Homo sapiens: one gene and its partner. The protein of the gene in region 1 purifies or fractionates together with the protein of each later gene. This does not show direct contact. Each region holds a gene or a part of one and is shown on either strand. Other genes may lie near its edges.

Evidence for each region.
Region 2: the proteins of KMT2E (region 1) and TBL1XR1 purify together in Homo sapiens (affinity purification with mass spectrometry; 2 studies listed by BioGRID). This does not show direct contact.

Annotation. Positions count from the first base shown.
Region 1 is NC_000007.14:105,007,508-105,019,864, forward strand, and holds the start of KMT2E (inactive histone-lysine N-methyltransferase 2E), read left to right. Parts: upstream 1-6,697; 5' UTR 6,698-7,028; intron 7,029-12,357. UniProt on the Homo sapiens protein: Associates with chromatin regions downstream of transcriptional start sites of active genes and thus regulates gene transcription. Chromatin interaction is mediated via the binding to tri-methylated histone H3 at 'Lys-4' (H3K4me3).
Region 2 is NC_000003.12:177,047,483-177,059,382, forward strand, and holds part of TBL1XR1 (F-box-like/WD repeat-containing protein TBL1XR1), read right to left. Parts: intron 6,437-11,900; coding exon 6,291-6,436; intron 4,245-6,290; coding exon 4,022-4,244; intron 3,129-4,021; coding exon 2,996-3,128; intron 2,657-2,995; coding exon 2,515-2,656; intron 442-2,514; exon of another isoform or gene 152-441; intron 68-151; coding exon 4-67; intron 1-3. UniProt on the Homo sapiens protein: F-box-like protein involved in the recruitment of the ubiquitin/19S proteasome complex to nuclear receptor-regulated transcription units. Plays an essential role in transcription activation mediated by nuclear receptors.

The DNA of each region.
Region 1 (12,357 bases):
GATCCTCCCACCTAAGCCTCCTAAGTAAATGGGACTACAGGCGTGTGCCAGACACCTGGCTAATATTTTAAAAAAATTATTTGTAGAGACAGGGGTTTCATCATGTTGCCCAGCTTGGTCTCAAGTGATCCTCCTGCCTCGGACTCCTAAAAGTGCTGGGATTACAGGCTACTTGCAATTCCTTTTTTTTTTTTTTTTTTGAGACAGGGTCTCACTCTGTCCCCCAGGTTGGAATGCAGTGGTGCGATCTCAGCTCACTGCAACCTCCACCTCCCCAATTCAAGCAATTCTCATGCCTCAGCCTCCTGAGTAGCTGGATTACAGATGTGCACCACTACGCCCAGCTAATTATTTTGTATTTTTAGTAGAGACAGAGTTTTGCCACGTTGGCCAGGCTGGTCTTGAACTCCTGGCCTCATGTGATCCACCAACCCTGGCCTCCCAAAGTGCTGGGATTATAGGCATAAGCCACCATGCCTATAATCAGCCAGCAATTACTTTCAAATGCTATCTATCATTTGTGGGCATTACATAATAATCTAACAATAAAAGGTATTGCTTAGGATAGTTATGAATAATTTAAAAATTATTATAAAGCTAATCAGACTTAGGTTAAATATGTTATGCACTGGCGTATAATCTATCTTAAAAAACAAATGCAATCAGTTCCTTTTCCTTGGCCTAAAATGTAGACCGACCCAAGATCTCAGCTTTCTTGCTAAATTTGTCTCCTATTAAGACTGAATCTACCCTGTTTTGGCTTTTATCTGTGAAGACTATCAAATGTCAATTATTTTTCTTGAAAGTCAATTCCTTCTTCTTCCTTATACCCACCCAGGCAACAATTACGGATGTTTCTGTAATAACTTAGATTCCTTCTTTATCACTCCTGCTCTGATTCAGGCTCTTCTTGCTACATTGAGGGCTCTAAAAGCCAGTCTCTTCTGGGTTGAAGACAGGTATGTTTTAAAGTAAGTCTTTCTCTGTCCTGTGCCACACCTCATGCCTGTAATCTCAGCACTTTGGGAGGCCAAGATGGGCGGATCACCTGAGGTGGGGAGTTCGAGACCAGCCTGGCCAACATGGCGAAACCCCGAAATACAAAAATTAGCCAGGCGCGGTGACAAGCGTCTGTAATCCCAGCTACTGGGGAGGGTGATGCAGGAGAATCACTTGAACCCAGGAGGTGGAGGCTGCCGTGAGCCGAGATCGTGCCACTGCACTCCAGCCTGGGCAACTGTGCAAGACTCTGTCTCAATTAAAAAAAAAAAAAAAAAAAAAAAGGCCAAGTCATCCTTCAGACAGTGTAAGTAGGGCAAAGATTATGAACTCTGGTGAGGTCAGGGAGACAGATGTTAAAGTTAATGCTCTGCCACCTTGGGTAAGATTATATATAAAGTATATACAACAGCATCCAACAGTTCGGTGTATTACGAGAGCATTCTCTTTTGTGGGGAGGGAAGTCACACTAGCAGTTAAGGATTTCTCGTCTGGCCTTAAGTCAAGACTTTCCAATAATTCCCCTGTTCTCTCATTAATGTCACTAATGACCTGATGTGGCATTACCTTGCTAATTAAAAAAACAAAAATCCCAAACTCTTGTTATTCCTAAATCCTTACTTCCAACTGTTATTCTTACATCAAACTATACATAAAGAAATGGAAGTAGCATTAAAACTGAGCTAAGTTTAGGATGGGCACGGTGGCTCACGCCTATAATCCCAGCACTTTGGGAGGCTGAGGCAGGCAGATCACCTGAGGTCAGGAGTTCAAGACCAGCCCGGCCAACATGGTGAAACCCTGTCTCTACTAAAAATACAAAAATTAGCTGGGCGTGGTGGTGTGCGCCTGTAGTTCCAGCTACTCACGGACTGAAGCAGGAGAATCGCTTGAACCCAGGAGCCGGAGGCTGCAGTGAGCTGAGAACGTACCACTGCACTCCAGCCTGAGTGACAGAGCAAAGCTCCTTCTCAAAACCAAAAAACAAAACTGAGCTAAGCTTAAACTGGTAGAATGAAGTCTGGGAGAAAATAAATTAGTAAGTAAACATTTACTTGCTAAACAACTGTAAGGGAAAAACCAGGATATAGTTTTAAATTTGAGACAAATATTAATCGATATACTTTGAGAGGGGCACTTAAGAAATACTCTTTTCAGGATAAGAAATATTAAGGCGATATATTCTCTAAGAATAAGTTTCTACATAATCTAATCTAGTTTAGGCTTAAGTTGTATGAAGTACCGTTTGTATTAGGTTGATAACCAATTTAGTTTATTAGGAATGGTACTATATACAAGATATTTGCTGACTGAAAGCACGTTTGATACCTCAAAAGACAACGCTGACAACGCCGCTTTTGCAGTGTGCTTACAAAGGAACAAAAAACAAAACAAACCCCAAAGGCCATTTCTTTTTCAAATAAGAAATACAAATGCAGGATAAACTTCAGTGCTTGCAGCAAAACTAGGCATTAAAGAAAAATGCTATAAAATATATTTCCTTAAAAATATCCAGCTCAGTTTTTTTCTTCTTCCCACCTTTTTGGGGCAGAACTATCTCTGGGCCATCAGCAGTCTTCTGCCTTGCCTGGAGCCTCCCTAACCTTTCATCTCTTATCCAAATTGTTTATCAAAAGAGCTCCTTTAAAAGAGTTTAAAAGCCAGTATTTACAGTTTATAGACTGCACAGTTAATCTTATCAATCTCTAAAAAACCATGTATACCTGAATGCCCATCAAGTGTCAAGCACTAGGCTGGGTTATCAACATAAAGAATGACACATTTACTTGCGAGTAGGGATTTTGCAGTTTCAAGAGGCAAAGAAAAGGTTCAAATTGTATTATCCAGAAGTGAGAAAGACGCACTCCAGGTAGCAGGACAAAAGCACAAAGGTATGAAATGGCATAGCACTTTTGAGATGGTGTGCATTTTAATTTTAACACACCAGAAGATATGCTATGTGAACCTAGTAAGCTTACCGCAACTGCAATGTTCCAAAGTTAAGAGACAATAATTTCAACAAAAACAAGGAAAAGGAGGTTGGGGTGTAATTTACTCAAATAATCTTTGTGAGGGGATGGGGGAAGAAAATTCTTAAAAAACAAGTACCAAGCTTAGTATTTTTATTGAGCTCAGAAAGCCTGTGGTCCCCAGTAAACTTTTACATTGCCTACCTGTGGCACTGAAGCTGGCAGAGCTAAGATGGAGGTGAAAATTGGAGAGGTATTGGAACATAATAGGCCCAAATGAAATTGCCCAGGCAGAATATATGAATGTATGAAGGCAGTCAAAGAAAAGTAATTCCAAGTATGAACAGTATTTAAAATGCCATAGGAAAGTCAAGAAAAATTGAGAGCTCAAGAAGTTCGTGGATTTGGCAATCAGGAACAATGAAGGTACACGCTGATTAAAGGCACAAAACAAGGAAAGGGTGTTTCCATTCGCTTGGAAAATGGCCTTTTTTCCTTATTAAGGCACGGTGAAAGTAGAAACATTCTGAAAATTACCTTAAAATCTACTGACTTCATATTTAGTTCCCTTTTTAAGCAGGAATAAAAACTGCTATGAAGGAAGGGGAGACATCTTACACGTAACAAAGTAACCCTTGAAGACATTCAAGAGTTCTTAATGCTTACTTTCTATTCAGAGTGGACAAATTACATTCTTTGTACTAAATATTTATAGCTCATCCACATTCAGTTGCTTATAACTGAAAAAAGAAATCCACAAAAACTAGTGAGGATTTAAGGATACACAAATGAATTAAAAACCCAATCTTGTTTTCAAACTACCAAGAGCCTACAACTAAGACTTAAGGAAATAGCACAACCTTGACCTCAGGTTCTTTTCAGGTCCAGCAATCATTTTCTCGTAGCACCAAGTATAAGCGCTCTGCCAAGAAGTAGGCCAGATTTTGGCTGCAAATGTGTTTGTTGAATAACTCCCCACCCTCTACACCACCCAAAAGGAGAAGCCCTTTAAAAATTATTTGCTAGTTTTGACTACTTTAACTAGTTTGGCTAAGTGGGAAAAACGAAAAACAAACTTAGTCTACCTTAATGAATATGCCAAAATAGCCCCTAAAACTGCTGGATATTTTCTCCTATCGAGATTTCAAAAGCTAAAAGTATAGTTTGTACTACTATAAAAGTGCTTCAAATTTCATGATGATGCAGGAACCTTAAGGAATAATATTCACCGGAAGTGCTTATAATTGCATCTTTTATTTTTAAAAACTACAAAAGGGCAACAGAAAGAAAGCAGACTTGAAAGTACTGAAAAGTCTTACAACTTAATACAGTTTAAAACACGGCTTTTATTCCGTATTACTAATGCCCAGTGCAAAAAAAAAAAAAAAAAAAAAAAGCAGGCCCGGCGCGGTGGCTCATGCCTATAATCCCAGCACTTTGGGAAGCTGAGACGGGCGGATCTCGAGAGTTCGAGACCAGCCTGGTCAATGGGGTGAAACCCCGTCTCTACTAAAAATAGAAAAAATTAGCAGGGTGTGGTTGTGGGCGCCTGTAATCCCAGCTACCTGGGAGGCTGAGGCAGGAGACTCGCCTGAACCCGGGGAGGCGGAGGTTGCAGTGGGCCGAGATCTCGCCTCTGCACTCCAGCCTGGGCACAAAAGAGCGAATCCCACCGACAAAACTATATTCTTAAGGGATGTACAGACAGAAAACTGAAATAAAGAACAGGAATCACAGGAGGAAGGAAGAGTCTGAAAAGGGCCCTTAAATTCAGATGGCTGCTTATGCCTTTTCAAAGCAATTAAAGTGTTCCTGGGTGTTATTTACACCTTTAAATTTGTTTCCAAACTTTGGAAATACTTTTCTATTTCAATCTGAGAAACTGTTTCCTCAGAAAGTAATCGATCCTCCTTGACGTTGTACCCCCAGAAGCTGGTCTACCCCTCGCTAGGCCTCCCAGAGGCCCTCAAGGACTCCTAGTTGATTCCGAGTCCCACGTCAGGGAACTACCACCTTACATAAGTATACTTTGCGGGGAGAAAGGCAGATAAGAAAATAGGGCGCCAAACCTTCTCCACCAACAGCCGTCACACCCCACGAGGACTGTCCTGCGGGGGCTTTCCCCTGGGAGCCGCAGCTGTTCTGCCGTATGGGGGAGGGGAACGCTTTCCAACAGTCATCTCTTCCTCTTCAGGCCGCCAACGCCGACCGCACCACAGTCTCCTCCGCCCAAGCCCTGTCCCCTCCCCCGCCCCGGCCTGGGTCGGAGCCAAACCCCACAGGAATGCAGCCCGGTCACATGCGCTGCGGCGGTGGACGTGCCTCTCCCCCCGCGCCCCAAAGAGACCCAGCGCCATCTTGCCCTGACGCAGTTACAAAAGTCACGGGAGAAATCCTGTCTCCTCCTCCGCGCCAGCGCCCCAAAGTTTTGCAGAGGCCGAGCCGGGGCCCTCACCTCGCGCAGGGACAGTAGAAAATGGTCAGGGAAGAGCCTTGCGATTCCCTTCGCCACTGCTTGGGTTCCATATCGGCCGCGGCAGCAACGATCACCATCGTCACTTCTCCCTCTCTACCTTTGCAACAGCCTCCCCCTACGGCTTTGGCCCCACCCGCTGCTGCAGGATGAGGTCATCGCCAGCCAACCACGACGCGCCCGACAGGACACATCAGGCGCTGATTGGCTGCCGAGACCGCCTCTGCCTCTCCCCACTCCGCTTCCCCCAGCGCTCTGGGTCGCTGCGGGGCAAGGGGAAGACGGAAACCATTTCGGGGAAAGACCCCCAAAACAAGAGCCGGAATCGCCGTGTCATTTTAGTGGGGAAACCCTTCTTTTATTCTTTGGTCTCCCCCTTTTTTCTTCGAGATCACTGTCTGTCCCTCCCTCGTTTAATCACCGCCATATAAAGGAATTCCCACTCCCCTCCCCGCACATTGTCCCACCGGTGGGGAAATCCTTCCCCGAGGCCAAGAGAAGTATAGGAGGCAGCGACGGCAACTGCACCGACGGCAACGGCAGCTTTTTACCCCGAAGCACGGTGGCAGGGAGGCGGCGTTGACGGTGGCTGCATTTTTCCGGCTGCTTCTCCCCCCGACCTCTTCCGTTTCTTGCTCCTCCATCGAGACAGCACTAGACTCGCCAGCTCCGCTTTTATCCGGTGCCCGGAGCCTGCGCACTGGAGCCTCCTCAGCCCCTAGTGGGCGTCGAGTGACACCCCAACCGGGTTCACCCAGCGCTGGAGGCCAGACTGGGCTGGGGGAGGAGGGGGAGAGGAACGGGGAGACGGGACTGGGGTTGTTTGGGAGGGGGAGAAGGTGTATCGCTTTCGGAGGGTGACGGGAGGGAGTTCGTTCCCAAGCCCTGCTGTCCTTGTTCGTGCACCCAATACTGGCATGCCCAAGCTCACCTATATCCAGACTTGAGGGCCACTGGGGGAAAGGGGGAAAGAACCAGTCCCACCGAATACCGACACTTCCTCAAACCTTCGGTGGATTGTTGAATGCATCTGTTGTCAGAAAGACAGAGATTCCGTCCCCCTCACCGCCTCCAGTTTGCTATCTTCGAGCCTCCGCGGAGAGGCAACGGCGGGCGGCAGCCCACAAGCAAAATGGCGCCGGGCAGCTTCATCCCCTCCCCCTCTGCCCCTGCGGAGCGGGACGGGCGTACCCCGTGCACTTGCCGCCGCCGCCGCCGCCGCCGCGGCCGCCGCCGCCGCCGCCGCCATTTTCCCAGAGCGAGAGGCAGTGACACTGAGCGGGCGCAGGGGGCCGAGTCGGAGACCGTGCCGGAGTTCGGGAGCGGCAACAGAGTGGGCATAGACACTCCGAGCAGCCTCGCCGTCGTCTCTGCGTTCCTGTTGACTGCCTGGCTGCCCCCTCCCCTACTCCTCGGTTCCTGGTGAAGAGGCTGCGCGCTGCTGTTTGGGGAGGGGGTGTGTGGAGCCGGGTCCTGTGTCCGCAGTGGCTGCTGTCGGGGGGTCGCCTGTTCGCGGAGGTGCGGAGAGACTCCTTGGGGGTCGAGCACATAACGGGGTTCGGGTGTCTCGTGTGTGAACATCACAGGTTAGTGCCTGTCGTCTCCATGGGAGTTCCTGGGGCTTGCGGGGTTGGGGTACTTGTGTTTCAAGGGGGAGGGAGGTCTCTCATCTTTATCCTTAAGCTGGGGGAGCCGACGTTGACTCTCAGGTGTCTTTGCCGGCGCAAGACGTTGCTTGCTTAAATCGAATTTATTCTTTCTTCTCCCTGACCCTAGAAATGGAGCATTATGGCGGGTTTTAGGGTTGGGAAAGGGGTAACTGGCAGTTAAACCCCCTTGAGAGTGGGGGAGTTAGGGAGGGGGCGCACTCCTCATTGGCAGCGGGTTAAGGCCGCTTGAGTGAAGACGGAGGCTTGTGACTGTTAGTAGGGTTTGTGTCGAAGTGGTCCCAGGAGCTGCCAGCGCTCCCTTTTCTCAACCGCGTCTTGTTCAGGTGCTGAAAAGCCATATAGGCCCCATTTTCTTCTTCCATTTCTTGACGGGCAGTCTCTGGTATAATGTGCACATGAATACGAAGGGGGTAAGAAGAACGCCCTGGGCATCTCTCTTTGTGGGAGAGCGAGACAGCTAGCTCCTCATCCTCTCCTGGAGAGGGTAAACCCGCCCCTGAAGTGGTCACCCCAGTACCCAGCCTTCTCAGTCTCCTCCCCCACTCCTTTTGCATTACCGCCGTCCTTTACTGTGCCGGAGCCTTAGGATCTACAATATGGCTCATTTCAGAAAAGCTTATTTTGACCAAGGGATTGGCACAAATTCTATGGCAGCAGACACAGATGAGAAACAAACGGTTCACTGTGCTAAACGGGGTGGGGGTGAGAAAAAAACAATCCAGAGTGCTCTCTTCTACTGGCCTTAGTTCCGTATAGATCCGTCCTTGCTGGGCTCTGTCTTAAGAACGATACAATTTAAAGTCAAAGAGGAATCGCTAGAGTTAGCTCTAGAGTAAACCTCGTTTTGCCTATTTTGTTCCCTTTTTAGAGATGTGAATAAGGTAAGGTGTTTGGAGTTCTGGAGACCTTGGAGAGAATTAAGTGAGGTGCATTCAACTCGAGGCTGGAGACATGAATACCTATTTGGAAAATAGTCTGTTTTTTTCCTTCAATTTCTGAGATGGGGAGTAAAAACTGAAATTTCCCTCTTTTGTCCTTTACAGATTCTAAAAATGGCGGCCCCAGGCTGATGTTGTGGTAATCTAATCAGCTCGGGTCCTCCACACCCCATGCAGTGCGTTTGTCTGCAGCATATTACAGGCTTATTATGTTTACATGAAAAGACTGGGCTGTTTTTCCTTCCCCGAGCCAGTTACAAAAATGTGTTGATTTTTTACTGCAAATTACAGTGCTGTGTTTTAGCTGATTAATTTGATTCGTTTTTCCTGAAAGGCAAATAAAATGTCTCCACTTTTGAAAAAAAAAAACAGCCTTGCAAATTTCAGTGGTGATGATGGGTGCGCTTCAACATTAAAAAAAAATTATTTGGGTACCAATAATAGTTTTTGTTTGGTTTAATCCAACCATCTTTTATTCAATATGCCAAAGTAGATTAAAATGTTTAGTAACTGTATAAGTATCATCTATTTTATATGATTAAATGTTTCAATCTAGAGTAAGACATTTCCCAACCACCTCTTGACCCATTTTGTGGATTTTGGTTTTTGTATTGTGTTTTAGCTTAAATTTTAGGGAGCTGTACAAACAAGCTTAAACCTGTTACTTCATTGGGTGTAGAGATGCCATTATATTTTGCCATCCATTTTTCCCATGTATTTAAGCTTTCCTTAAGAATTTTCAAAGTTTATTGTGTATTTGGTAAAGTGAAGCTTCATGCTGCCTTTAACAATCGTCTTACAGCATACTATCATCATTATGTAAGTTAAAAGTAAGGCTCCGATTCTGGATTTTTTTCCTCTTCAAATATGCCCATTTACCTATTATAGGATTGTGGAATTTAGTCTGTTTTAATAGACCTTAAATAAAAACATTACCATAATAGGGTCTTGAATCCATTTTATGCTATTTTCAGAAACTTACAGACTGAGACTGAAAATTAAATGGTGTCAGGTGTCATTTAACTGAATTTTTTAAAGTGTGAAAGATTAGAATTCACTTTCGTAGTGGGAGTTCTTTTTGGGTTGAACTAAGCAGTGAGATGTGAGTGGGCCATTAATGACATTTAATGACCATTCTGATTGTGGAGCAACGGAAAGATGAGTGCTTTTCAATCCAGTAGTACTTTAAAAGGTTGAAGAGTATACACTGTTTCATGATTCTTTTATTCCATTGTAAATATTTTAGAGCAGCATTTACTTCATATGGTGACTGTATCAACTAGGTTGATAAGGTTCTAGCCTACGAAATAATTAGAGAAATAACTGGCTCAAGGATTTTCTACATACCAGTGAGCTTCATCATGGAAGACTGAGCACACAACCTTACTTAGAATATTTGAAATATTTTATTATAAAGTGAAATGTTGGTGGGTAGTGGGCGAAATTTGTGTAGGGTTTTGGGGTCAGTACTCATTTGTATTTTGATCTGAGCAAGTATTTAAGTCCAGATCATTCACTGCTGTGTAAAGATTGTGCATTTATTTTAAAGGCTGGGTGATTAAGGTCTGTGGTTCAGAAGCTTGGTACTTTAAACTTACTATTCAATATACAAAATCAGTGTATTCTTAAAAATTTGATTTATGTGGCCATAGGAGGGAACACTGCCTGTGCCCGATGGTTTTCTTCATAGAGACCTTGGTCAGGTCTAGACAGACAAAGCAATTGAACTTATTTGGCTTCAAATGAAAAATACCAAGTTAGAAATTATAGGAAAAGCTGTCTTCAGTTTACTAGCTTTCTTCATATTGGCTTGCTTTATTGCTTTAGGTTTTGTTTCTTTTTGGTGGTGGTGGTGGGTGGTTTTTTTTTGTTTTTTGTTTTTTTTTTTGATGTTTTAGTTCCTGTAAAATGATACTGGCTTTTTTTTTTTTTAAGTATTGTACCTTATTTTGAATGGTTACTTTATAAATCACGAGGCTATAATTGTTTGTTTTTTGTTAATTTACTATGTGTGTTTTAAGTTAGGATTGTCTAGGCAAATTTATTAGAAGGTTAGGCATAATTTTTGTTCCCAGAGAGTTTTGAAAGAATTTGGTTCCTTGGGGGAAACTAGTCAAATGGTCTTTGTTCTAGGATAGCTGAGTTTGAAGGATTAGTTGTTTATCTGTTTAAGTGGATTTGTAGAGAACTATAATGTAATTGGAGAGTTAATTTTATTTTTAGAGCCTACATTTTGATCATACATCCTTTCGTTGTCAGTGTAAATGAAAGGATCTCTCTGATTCCAGTTTAAGTGTAGAGCCTTGACAGGTCTCCATTTCCCGTCAACTCTGTAAGACTGATAACTGCCCTACAATTTTGGCTCGTCTGACTTCCTCACAGCTTCCAGAGAGAAATCATTGCCATATATGCCCCCAGTAAGCTCTAGGACTTCTTGAGTCTATTGAGGCAGTAGGGAGAAAAGCTAATTAATAGGAGAAAAATTTCCCCTCAGTACATATCTTAGTGGTCTTAGGGAAATTATAATTTCTTAAATTGGCTTCTTAATTTCCAAGAATAATGTACTCGTTTTCATTCATCAATCTTCTAAAGAAACCTGTGGTTTAATTTTTAAAGGTGTGTTTTATGTAAACCCTAACAGCTCTGCATTTCTGGAAGCTACTACTACTGGGACTTAAATGTGTACAACCATAGTGTGTTTAAAATGTGTAAAACTAACAGAACTTTGAAGAGCTATCAAAACTGGTTAGGAAATACTAGTATGCAGTTTTCTCAACAGATGCTATTTTATGTTTACTATTTTAAAAATATTTTAATAATGTGTAAAAGCTTTTATCTCCAAAGGATTTGTTTTTAGCAGATGGTAGGTGCTTAATTATTTCTTGGATGTGAATCTTTTATTGAAGCAAACACATTTACATCTCAAATATGTAGGGTGATCAGGGACTGTTCCCTGTTATGTGTTAGAATAAATGTTAAATACTTGTATTCTGTGAGACTTGTTTCCCCCAATTTCATGATAGATTATCTATGAGACTTTTTAATATTGAAAATATAATTATTTTATGGTAAAATTAATTTTTATGTTGACTGGCAAATTAACGAGTGGAATACTATTTGAAATATTACTCTGTGAATGTTACTGGCTTTTAGGCTGGGTTTAAAATTGAAGTGGCTCGTATTTACTACCTGTTCTGTAATGTGCAGATGTTGGGAGGAGCCTTATTTTTTTCTTGACATTGAAAGAATAATTTTTTGTATTACCTACAAATTTACTTAACATGGAGGAACAGTATTTGTTGTTGAAATTGTTTTCTACACTAAACTGGAAGTGGATGGTATTTAACTAAAAATCTTGCAATTGCTATTAAACAATGAGTATTTTGCATTATATAAAATAAACAGTATTTTACTTTGTATAATATAAAATGAGTATTTTACTTTATATAAAATACTCTGTTTAATAGCAATTGCAATATTTTTAATAGCAATTGCAAGAGATAAGAATTAACCATATTATGATGCAAACAAATTGTTTTTTTGTTATTGTGAACTTCCATGCTAAGTGCTACATTAAAAATCAAATGAAGGTGACCCAGAGTAAGTTAATTAGATTTTAATTCATATCTTTAAGGATAAAAGAAGTTTTTATTAACCATTGGTAACTAGGATGCTTTTTACTTAAATCAGAGTCAGGAAAAGCAGTTGGTCTTATATTTCACGAGATAACATGTTTTCACTTGATATGAAATCAGTTCTTTTTTTCCCTCATGAACAGCTCATAATTGGATTTTATTTTTGGACAGAAAAACTTTTTTTATTGTTAGGTGAATTTTACAGTTTTATTGGAAATCTCGTTTGGTTATTTACCAAAACTATTTAAGCTTTTTGGGATGTTGGACATTTTCAATGCAACAGGTCAACAAAGAATTCTTTTTTGATGTGTTGCATTAAGATGCCATCAAAACAGACACTACGTCTTTTAATGAGTAAATAATTAACCTATAATATGTGTAAACTACTTGTTCATCATTTTTAATTAAAATATTTTGTATTTCAAAACTGTTTCAAATATGAAATCTGGGTTTAGAAAGGATCTGCATGCAGGTCAACGTGATAAGCAATGATCTATGTAGCTTTATTTTTACGACAATTGGACAGAGGTAATTTCTTAGCACCTCTTAGGCTGCTTAATTTAGAGTTAATCCAAAGGAAGAAACATTCCTTCAGAAGACTAGGACATATCAGATATTAATTATTAAAAATAGGCTGGGCACGGTGGCTCATACCTGTAATTTCACTACTTT
Region 2 (11,900 bases), on another chromosome or scaffold:
TACCATCTTTAGTCCATATTCTGGCAAACCCATCATAGGAACCAGTTGCTAGAAGTGTACCTTCACTCTGCCAGAGAAAAACATTTCTTTAATTATATAATCTAGATACGGTATTTAATTGTTGTTAAAGTATTTCATGTTTAAATCCCAGGTACAGAAGAGAATGAAGACATTCTCTGCTTCAAAACTTGTCAGTTTTGCCTACTTGTGAGTGCCACTAAAGGCCTATGAAACCCTTCCACTGTGTGACACTAATGTTGTATGGGGGCCTTATATCCAAAGTTCAACAACTGACAGTGATTGCTCTGGACCAGGATCTACATCACCCCACCTCATGCATGCCAAAAGTATTCTCACAGACTCACACAACTAAGAATGAAGGTAGAGTGGTGGACTGGGAAGAACATCAAATTCATAGTCTTACAATGATTTATTAGAAGTAAAAAAGAAAAACTTTAAAATATGATTAGAAGGTTTTATATGGCCATTCCTCTAAATCCTTTACTGTCTAAAACGAAGTGTGTGGGTATGATCCAAACAATATCATTGTTTCGAATGATCAGATTCTTAAATACTTGAATGTTCCTTTCTATTATTAATCCCTTCCCACTATGAAATATTTGCCAATAAAAAGATCAACAAGGAAAAGAGCCAGAAAAGAGCACAGGCTGACTTTATAGTTAATGAAGTAAGTACAACTGCCTACTTTACCAGGAGGAAAAGTCCATATAAATTTCTCTCAACTTATATTCCCTTGCTGTGCACCTTGCCTCGATGAATTGTGTAATAAAAGGACAGATCTAACCTACTCTATGCAAACACAGAAGTTACAGATTATAGTAAACAGACTATTGCTAGAATCAGTAAACATTACTGGAGAATGAAATCCTGCATTACTTGACATATTATTGATGGTTTTTGGTAAGGGCATTCAAAACAAGATCACCTATTTCACATCTCTCAAGCCATTTAGCAGTATGGCTAAGTGACAAACAAAAACAAATGCTGGTTCTGGGAACTGCAGACTCAATTCTGCTGGGATGTGGCCATCCCTTAGGGCTCTGTCTCAAGAAGAAGGGGAGCCATGTTGAAGTCAACAGTAAAAGCTTATTTCCACATCCTACACAATGTCAAGTTTCCTCTAAACTATCAGTCCCTAAATGTTTTAGTTCATGAACTGCTCAACTAGGAAAATACTGTAAAGATGAGAAATCTCACAGGCTCTCTTGCTTTAGCCATGGAAAAGAATCATTAATCGAGGATAATGTTTTCCAAGTTCACCGTGAATAACACATTTTTTAAAAGCCCACACTTTTCAAAACTATAAAATGCAGTTCAGAACTACCAAGCTCAACAAACCAATATTCATTAACCATCCTTTTCAGTGTAAACTATAAATTTCATTAACATGGCCAGTGGACCAGGTAGCGTAAGAAAGCTGTAAGATATCTGAACTAAAATATAATAAGGGCCCATATTAAGAAAATAATTCTGTCTTGATCTTACAAGTAAATAATACTACAATGTGCTAAACCCCTTTGGAATTTTTAGAATTGTCATATGGAGGGGAAGAGTAAATATGCTGCTGGCAATTTTGGAAGAAAATGCTAAAAATACCTAGCTATGATTTCTGAAAAAACATTTCACAGAAACTGAGAACTTTAGTGGGGATAATCATTTTAAAGATAGATCTCATTCCCGGGGAAAAGAATTGGAAGATCCTTTAGAAAGTCCACAAAGGGTTGTTAAACAGAAGAGAAAAGAACATTCATTTGCTGAGCAAAGAACAACTATCTTGATATTCTTTGCAATGCTGAAATAATCTAAGAGTTTTGGGGGAGGGGCAGGGGGTAGCGGAGCGAGGTAAGAGATGTATTTAAAACTATAATGGTGAGAATTTATCAACAACGAAGTCAAAGTTTTTTGTAAGTCACAGTAGTCAAGTTGTCCTGAAAGATGTTGAATCATACACAGAATCAGAGAATTACAAGATTCCTACAGTGGGAATAAAATTCAGACGTTGTCTAGACTAATGATCCCTAAAAGGAAATTGGTAATAAAGTTCTACCAGTTCACAGAATACAGAGAAAAACAAGAACATGTTTTTTGCTACACAGAATTCTTTTATCCCCTAAGGACTCGGTTGTTATAGATTTAGTATGTTGTTTGTTATTATGGTAAGAATTTTCACCTATTATCTCAAATATTTAGGTACCATTTTCACACTTCTACTTGACATTTAAAGAAAATGAAGTACAGAGTAAAAAGTAACAATTTAACCAAGGATATGCTGTGGGATACACTGAAGAGCTGGATGTTGAACCTTGGTCTGACTAAGGCAAGTCTGTGTCCCACAGTGGGGGAGAGGGCTGGCAGGGGACGACTCCCGGTTTGTTGTTACTAGTTAATAAAACCCCAAATTCTGAACAAATAGACAAACCCTGCCGTGAGTATGAGGCTCTGAGGGTTAGGTATACTAGTAATTATATCCATCATGGATATAGTGATACTCACATTCCAATCTAGAGATGTGACATCCTTGTTGCTTGGAACATCTTGCCCTCCTTCTCGTATACAATGTCTAAGTACTAACTGTGTAGAGCCACTGGTGCTGTTCTCACTAAGATTCCATATTCTTGCTGTTGAGTCTCCAGACCTATAAAAGTATGCAATATATTTTAGATCCTCATGACATTCTCACGTATCAGAACAAGGCAACATATTTACATCTGAATATTAATAAGGCAAATAAAAACGACTATCACGAATTTTCATTTCCAGTATTTTTCCCATTCTACACGTTGGGACCCCCAAGCATTCTCGAAATAGTAAGTTTAATTAAAAATTCTACAATTACTTCATGAAGGAATAAAAAATTTACAGAGACAAAATGGCCACAACTAAGCAACAACAGAAAACCTGAATAATGCATATGTTTATAAAATGTTCAATAAGATATTTTTAAGTCATTTTAGTATCACTTTGAGAAACATACCCTGATGCTAGGAGATCACTAACAGGGTTCCAGGCACAGATAAAAACTTCAGATTCATGGCCCCGCAACACAACAGCTTTATTAGGAGGGATTTCAACATCCCCATCCACTTCCATCATATCAGTATGATTATCTGCATCGTGAAACACAAGTAAGCATTTCCAGTTAGGCAGTATTACAACATGGTGGATGGGTGATTTCTTAACTAGCAAATACCTTCCTTTATCGCACACAGTGTAACATTTTTCAATTATATCCAGTTAAGCTGAACATGACTACACAGTCTTAGTCACACAGAAAATAAATTCTTATCTTTAATTAAGTATTGACCACATACTTTTTTTTTAGAGGGGTGGGGGTGGGAGTGGGATGGGAGACTTTAAATGATTAGACCTAAACATGGATAAAACGATAAAATGGTTTGAATTAAATATAATGTCTATCAGTACTATTCTGAGTTTCTGCCAGTAGGGGTTGCTGATATCATTCATATAACATGAGTTGCCTTTTATCTCGATGTCAGAGCTCTATGGTTATTTGTTGATAACTAGTATTACAAATTTTATTTAGAAATCAAATGTAGATGTAAAAATTCATTTAACAATGGGAAAAGGGTTTCTAGATATTTTAAAAAGAAAATAAAAGTAAATCTAGCTTTTTGGAGCTTTAGGAATAAAAATCTGAATTGAACTGTGTGATACAAGTTAGGGAAACAAGTTGGTGCAAGTTAACAGATGAAATTATTTCAGCATAGAAGATGGGGCATTTCTTCTGAGAAAAAATTTTTAAAAATTCTTGTCTCCTGGGACCTTCCTGGGGGGTGGAGGGTGGGAGGAAGAGGAGGATCAGAAAAAATAACTATTGGGCACTAGGCTTAGTACCTGGGTGATGAAATAGTCTGTACAACAAACCCCTGTGATATGAGTTCATCTATATAACAAACCTGCACATGTACCCCGAATTAAAAGTTTAAAAAAATAAATAAATAAACCATGTAATTAAAAAAAAATTCTTGTCTGAGCTCACTTGCTATAGTATGTGCTCCATTCTCCTCCCCATTTGCTGTGTTTTCTCCATTTTTTGCAGATCCTTGTTGGCTGGCTGCAGCTGCGGCAGCTGCAGCAGCTGCTGCCTGTTGCTGTGCAAGCTTATCTCTATAAGCTTGTTGTCTTGTTTGTACTACATCAGGCATTACGGCATCTATCAGGGACAGAGACTCTATTGGTCGACCATCAAACAAGGTACCATCCTGGATTTGGAAAATTGTGAGAGAAGAAAAATCAAAGGCAATATTTAAAGTTATTTGTATTTATACAAAATCAGAAATGAAATGAAAATCTTCGTTCCTAAAAAAACATTTTTAGGAACTTTCTGAATTCATATAAGAAGTCCGGAGGGAATAAAGAAACTACAAGCAGCAACTGGAAATGACTGCTTACATTTTCCTTTTCATTTAATTCATACTATTATTACAGTATAGAGCTGTACAGATAGAGCTGAAATGAAAGAGATAATAAGATGTAGGCCGAGCTGATAAAAAGGCTTATTAATTAGATTCTGAAATTCTGTTAGTCAAAGCAACAAACAATATGGAATATAGTTCATATAATGATCAGAGGCCTGGTGCCCCATTATAGTAAATACATCTTTTAAAAAACTAAAAACTTTGAGCTGAAGAGTTTCTTGTGATTTGATTCAAATATTAAAGCAGAAACAGACTTCATGGGGCTATAGTGCTCTTGAATATTAGGGAGTTATTAAAATTTCCAAAGCTCTACTTATTGATATTAGGAAGTTCCTAATAAAGAGTTCTCCAAGTAAGCACAAGAAGAGACACAAACACAGAACAAGTCAGAAATACAAACAGTACAAATTAGCTGGGAACATGCATATGTGAAGTCTGGTTCACTTAAACTGGTAAACATGTACCAGTGACAATCTACAGTGTTATTGCAGGGTACTGTGAGCTGCAAAAACACAGCCTGTCTTTCTAAACTGTCCATTGTAATGTAATATTTCAGGAACAGGAGAAAGTATTTTAACTTATAAATAATTTTTAAGATACTAAACCCAACACAGATACACTGTGGAATAAGCGCCATGTCAAATTTACACACATTTTAAGAAAAAATTTAGTTTTGCGTTACTGGATGGTCACTCAAAGAGCTGAGGAAACAAACAAATCCATTTTAGTATATTATGTAATTTCTAATTCTAGTAATAATCATTGATACAGAAATCATAGATACTTCAGTTTAAAAATACTCGCAAAAGGGGAACATGTTAATCTCTGAAATAGAAGTAATGGGAAAAGCTCCTCACTATAGATAAAAATTTTAAACTAGGCTGGGCGTGGTGGCTCATGCCTGTAATTCCAGCACTTTGGGAGGCCGAGGTGGGCAGATTACCTGAGGTCAGGAGTCAAGACCAGCCTGGCCAACATGGGGAAACCCTGTCTCTACAAAAATTCAAAAATTAGCTGGGCATGGTGGTGGGTGCCTATAATCCCAGCTGCTAAGGAGGCAGAGGCAGGACAATCGCTTGAACCCAGGAGGCGGAGGTTGCAGTGAGCTGAGATTGTGCCACCACACTCCAGCCTGGGCAACAGAGCGAGATTCCGTCACACACAAAACAAAACAAAACAAAAAACAAAAACAACATTTTAAACTAGACCGGGGTTTACAACCTTTTTCTGTAAAAGAGTAGACAGTAAATATTAATTTAGGCTCTGCAGGCCATAAGGTCTCTGTCTCAACTACTATTATGCCATAAGTAGCCATGGACAATATGTAAATGCATGTGGCTATGTTCCAATCAAACTTTATTGAGAAAAACAGGGAGGAGCATTTGGCTAATGGGCCACAGTATGCTGACCCCTAAGCCAAACAAACTACTCACATGTAGTCCTTAGATAGGCAGTACCATCCAGAGTTGGCTTCAATTACAAACTGGTTTAAATTTGGGTATATTCAAATAACGTGAGAATTTACAATTTTCAGGCCAATAATTATGATCTTAGCATTCCACAGCACAATGCTGTTGTGTTAATAAAAATTCTTTATTAGTGTTTACTTACACAAACAGATTAAGGCAAACAAACTACAGATAATGGTCCTTACAACTAGGCGCCAACACCTTGCCGGTGCAACCTGACTACCACATTAGGGATGAACTGCCTGCACTTTTGTTAACCCTGTGAAGCTAAAGTCAGAATACTGAATAAGCAAGCAAGACAGCTGACTTAACGGCATATTTAAGATGAAAAAAATCAGTATTTGAAATAAGTCTTCCTTACCTCATTAATACTAACTTCTGCTTCTACATACTGTAGACCTTTCTGGATGATAGAAATCAATGCAGCGGGTGGGACGAGGGCACCATTTATATTGGACTGACTGATATGGCTTTCTATACCAAAGGTAAATGCTGAATGAGAAAATCCTAAAAACAAAAGAAAAGGCATGAGAATTTATTTTCCTAGTGGCAACATGCTAAATGACACAGAAAGAAAGATCACCATCATCTTTTCAAATCCCATCCTACCCATTTAAAATCCCAGACGAAGGTCGTGTGTGTGTGTGTGTGTGTGTGTGTGTGCGCGCGCGTGTGTGTGCATGTAAACATGTCAGCCTTTACATACTTTCTTTTTCTCTTAATGTACTCTTTAAAATTTCTAGTAAATACTTGATTATATAGCTTCAAATTTTCTAAAATGTCATGGTACACAACTTTTCTTAACAAAAAGCATCAAATGTAAAAGGTAAAACAAGTCTTTGGAAATCATATAATTAAATTGCTTCATTTAAATCAGGCCAAGACAGATTAAGGGACATTTAATATTTCTGTATTATATTTTAATATTTTTTACATCTAGAATTAAGGAACTTTATTTCAAATTTTCTTTCATCCCAGCCCAGTTCAAGTATTCAGCATCTCTCAAAAGTGGTACACATAATATGCTTTAAATAGGAATTCATTCATTCTGAATGATCTTCATTTACTTCATGTAATTGTTATCTACTACGTAGTTATAATTCAATAATGTCTGTAAAGCAATCTAGCACTCAGGTAAAATCTGAAGTATTTAAATTTCTACATATAAATTGTCAAACATCTGATAAATTCAGTATTTTGGAGCTCTTTGGAACTACTTAGGAAAACTAAAATAATAAAAATAAATTCAAATATTAAAAAATCATAACGGTTAAATCTCATTTTATGTATGAATTAAGTGCTTTAAAAATACCAATTCTTTGCCACTTAGTAATAACTCATCTATATGAAATATTTAAGAAATGAACAGCTAGCAAATGATTACCTGGTTTATAGGTCTCCATCAGCAATTACTTACTCTTAACTTGAAATACTTAAAACCAAAGCACTTACTTAATAAAAATCTCTTTATGTTGGCCTTGCTTTTTATTAATATCTAGTCAAAATTCAAAGGTAAAATTCTAAGAAGCTGATAAACCAAGGGTGGTTATTTTCTTTACTGAAATATTAATCACCATTTATCATTAAGTAGTAATTTCTATGAAGTATTTTAAACAATTCAATTAAATTGTACAAGTAATATAGAATATTAATAAACATTTATACTAAACAAAGGAAATAAATACAGGCTTATTTTGGGTCTTGGTTAAACTGATTTAATCTATATAGTATGTCTGTTGGCTAGCCTGTCTAGCCTAGTTTTTTAGTGTTTAGTAATGTCTTTTTTGGATTTTGTGCTTCCACTCTTATACTCCTTGTGGTACTTATAAACAGTCTAGTAGAAAATACTGTGGGCTCACAATTTCCTAGCATGTGGCTAGGAAAATTTGGTTATTTGATAGTCAGAGTACACCTAAGTTGATTTTCCTTGTAACCCCTTCCTTCTCTCTTTGGAACACCTAACTCATTATGCTCACAACATCTAACCCACAGTGGAAAAGGCAAGTGGAAAAATGTTACCTCTAAAACCTTGATTTTAGCCCCTGATTTTGCCCATAAGCAAGATCATAATTAAATGCATTTATAGTTTTCATAGTTTTCACCTTAATCTGGGCTCACAGAGATACCAATCGGGGGGCGGGGCGGGGGTGGGGGGGTGGGGGCGGAGAAGCACCGTTTTGAATTGTCCCTATCAGGAAGCCCACAACTATCTGAATATGAGTAGATTCCAGATCACCAAGGCAGAAAACAGAATAAGGATGAGGGAGGATGGGGAGAAACAATGAGAGACATAGCAGTAAAATCCTTAAGCAGTGAGGTTGGAGATTCCTGTTTTCAATTATATAACCCCTCCCTGAATAAATTCACAGTAAATCATCCATAGTAAAAACAGCCAAACGCCAAGCAGCTTAAGAGATTTAAGAAAACTTCAAGACAGAAGACATCATTTACAGAGGGCCTATACCATATGCTAGATACTGTGTACACACATATAATTTTATTATTTTATAATCTAATGGAAAATCACAACTAATAAATGAGAAAGTACAGATTCAAATTCATTCAGAGACTCTACTACTCCTCTTGAACAGTTAAAATATGGTCAAGGATAAAGCTAAGGGAGAGAGTGAGCTCCTGTTTCCTGATAGAAAGTAAAAGACTACATCACTGTTTTGTTTTCATCTCAGGGTCCTGGAAAGTGGTTGCACAGTGCATGAAACACTGAGCCATCTTATTGCCATATTTACTGCCAAGGTTTTGAAAGTGTCTTGACTTATGTAATGCTTATAAATTTGTTTGAAGTACATGATTTCTGTATACTTTATTCATGACTGCAATTTAAATAGTCAAAATTGTTAAATTTGGACCCTATTTAATTAGCTTATAGAGTTTAAGTTTAAAGTAATAATATGTCCAAGAATAGTCTAAGACTTGCAGGTGGAACTGTGCCAATTTCTGGCTGGAATGTTGCAGATATCCTGAATTTGTTCTGTCAGACCAGGAGAAAAACTATCACAGGTGCTTACATGCATCTCAAGGTACTGCAGATGTACTTAGGATGCTCTCAAATAGCAATGAAACATCCCTGAAGTAGTCATTAGCATTGTTTTGGCACTTCTCACTAATGTTTACCCTAGAGAAGTTCCAAACTTAAATGCTCTGCTTAAATGTTGAATTCAACTAGAATATTTTCTTTATTTCTAGCCATGGCATTACATAGCAGTTTAAAATTACTATGTTCAAAATCAATTTTCTTCTTCCCCTCCCTAAAACTACTTTTCCTTAGAAACTTCTGATCTCATTTCACTACACCTGAAAGTCATAGTCATCCTAACTCCCTCTTCTCTCTCGGTCCCTTGGCATTTGACAATTTACCAAATCCTACCATCCTACTCCAAATCCTACCACTCTACCATCTGTAGATGCTCATCACCTTACCTTTTCTGCCAGATCTGCGTTTAGTCCCCATTACCCTTTGCTATACACATTTCTTTCCCCTCCTCCTCAATTCAGTATATATGCCAAGCTACAGCTAGACTATTACTTGTAAAACAAAAAACTGAACATATCACTTCTTGCTTGAGAATTTTCAATGATCCCCTTGGCCTTCATAACAAAGGTCAAACGCCTAATTATGGCACACAGTTGTTTCTGTAATCTGGCTCTTCTGTCTCTCCAGTCTCATCTCAATACTACACACCCCGTCTCACTCCCATTACACAATAAATTCAAGTGGTGGCAAATTACATCTAACATCTTGAATATGCTGTGTTATACATCATGCCTCTGAGCCTTATGTCCTCCTTTGCTCTTTCTCCTATCTGAATGGAGGTGAAATCCTCTTTCACTACACCAGGGCTAACCAGTCTCTCCTACGCTGATCCTAGAATTTCTGTATGTGTGGCACTTACCACACTGGTTATCAACTGTGTGGCTATGGTTGTTTGCCTGTGTGTGACTACTAGACTGGGATCCTGACAAAAGGGTTTAAGTCTAGTAATCCTTTAATTCTGGGAAACTAGCACATTACCTGAGTCAACAAGTACTCAATAAACATTTTTTAAATTAGAATGCAATTATACTATAATGTATTTTGGCACATCAAAAAAATCTGTGACTCCAGAAAAAGCATATGACTTAAGTCTTCCTTGGAAAAATCTAAAACTTGAACTAGTTTTGTGCCAGAAGCTATTTCCATTTATCTGTAAATATATATATGCAGAAAAAGGCTTTTTCCAGGGACAGCTTTTGATTTATATAATAGGAGGCAAAAGAGACCACCTAAATCTGTTAGATGTTAAAATCCGGCATGACCATCTAAAATAGCATCCCTTCTTTCCAAGTGTAAGAGCAAATCTGATAGTACCTCTGTAATCAAGTACTCTAAACACTGACTAGGGTATTGAGACTCAGGGAGAAGAGAGACTCCAGAAAGAAATAAGACTGAAACACATGAAGTATATAGTCATTCAGTGACAGAGACGAGCAACGACAGCTGGCAGGGAGTGGGGTGGCACGCATGAAGATCACAAAACAGCCATTTTCTATAGATCGCTTGTTTCAGGAAGTGCTTTCTGTAAGGATGTTAGGGACTGTGTTCTCAAAGGGGAGTTAGTCATACAGAGCCTGCCAACTCTACCTTGCAAATAGGCAATACAAGAATAAGAAAATGGACTCTGAACACCATGATTATGGTACAGGATGACTAGATGAGACAAACTGGTAAAAAAGGCAAAGCTTAAATATGACCACAACATACTGCCCTAGTCTGAAACGAAAATCTGATTGATCCAAGGTCCTATATAAGCTTCAAGTCAGAAAAGCTCAGCAAATTATACTCATGTTCTCATCATCAAATGCTTTCTTGACTCCAACTCTGCCCTACAGATCCAGATTTTAGAAAAGGTAAATAGGATGGGGAAAAAATGACACAGGGGATCTTTGTTATTGAAGAGCTAGATCTAGTACTGATACACTAGCTATAAAATTTCGTGCCCTAATTTTGCCCTTAAAAATACATGTAACTATGAACATTTTATATAAATAATACTTTCTGAAATAATTTTAATAGCATCATAATATTCAGCCAGTAAATTATTCACGCCATAGCTGGACCTTCGAACTTTTCCAATGATCACTATTTTAAAAGAATATTACCTCAAATATCTATATGTATAGGCTTTTGCCATGTACAATGTGTGTTGTTTTTTTCTCCTTAGGATGGATTCCCTCAAAAGCTGAAGGGGATATAAGCATTTTAAAGAAGGTTTTCATCATTGCCAAATTGCTTTCCAAAAAGATTATTAATAATGCCAAAAGCAATTTCCATGTTTCCTTATACTCTCGCTATGCTGGCTAGTCCTAAAAAACATTGAACAAATTCTCTGTTTGGCAACTATTAAAGGACCATTGTCCCTTTGATAAGTGTGCTAGCAGGAATGTGTAATACGAATTTCCTGTGTCAGCAAAAAATGGTAATTCAGCTTACAAAAAGAGGAGAAAAACTTATTTGGGAAAAAAAAAGAATTGTAATTATCAGCATTTATGACAACTGCTTGCTGTTTATTGTCAATTAGTCATGGATACAACCATGTGTGTAAAATCAAGGTTATTCTGTATTTCATTTGATTATAAAACAAAACTATATACCTACTTGCACTTCTGTAGCTGGTCATCTACTGATAAAAACTAAAAGGCAGACTGAAGGCGGACATACCAGACGCTGAGCTCTCTTCACTGCAGTTCTTCATGACTAGAAGCACATTACTGATAACCACTTCAACCTGACTCCATCGAATACACTGGTAATGTCTGTTCATAAATGGCACTGGGCATAAGGTACATAGGAAGGAATGGCCCAGTTACCTTTATCTGAGTCAACAAAGAAACTGCACTGTAATATTCATTAGCCATTACAGACCTAATGTGAAACTGCTACAATGAAACAAAAAAATGAATGAATGAGCTATAT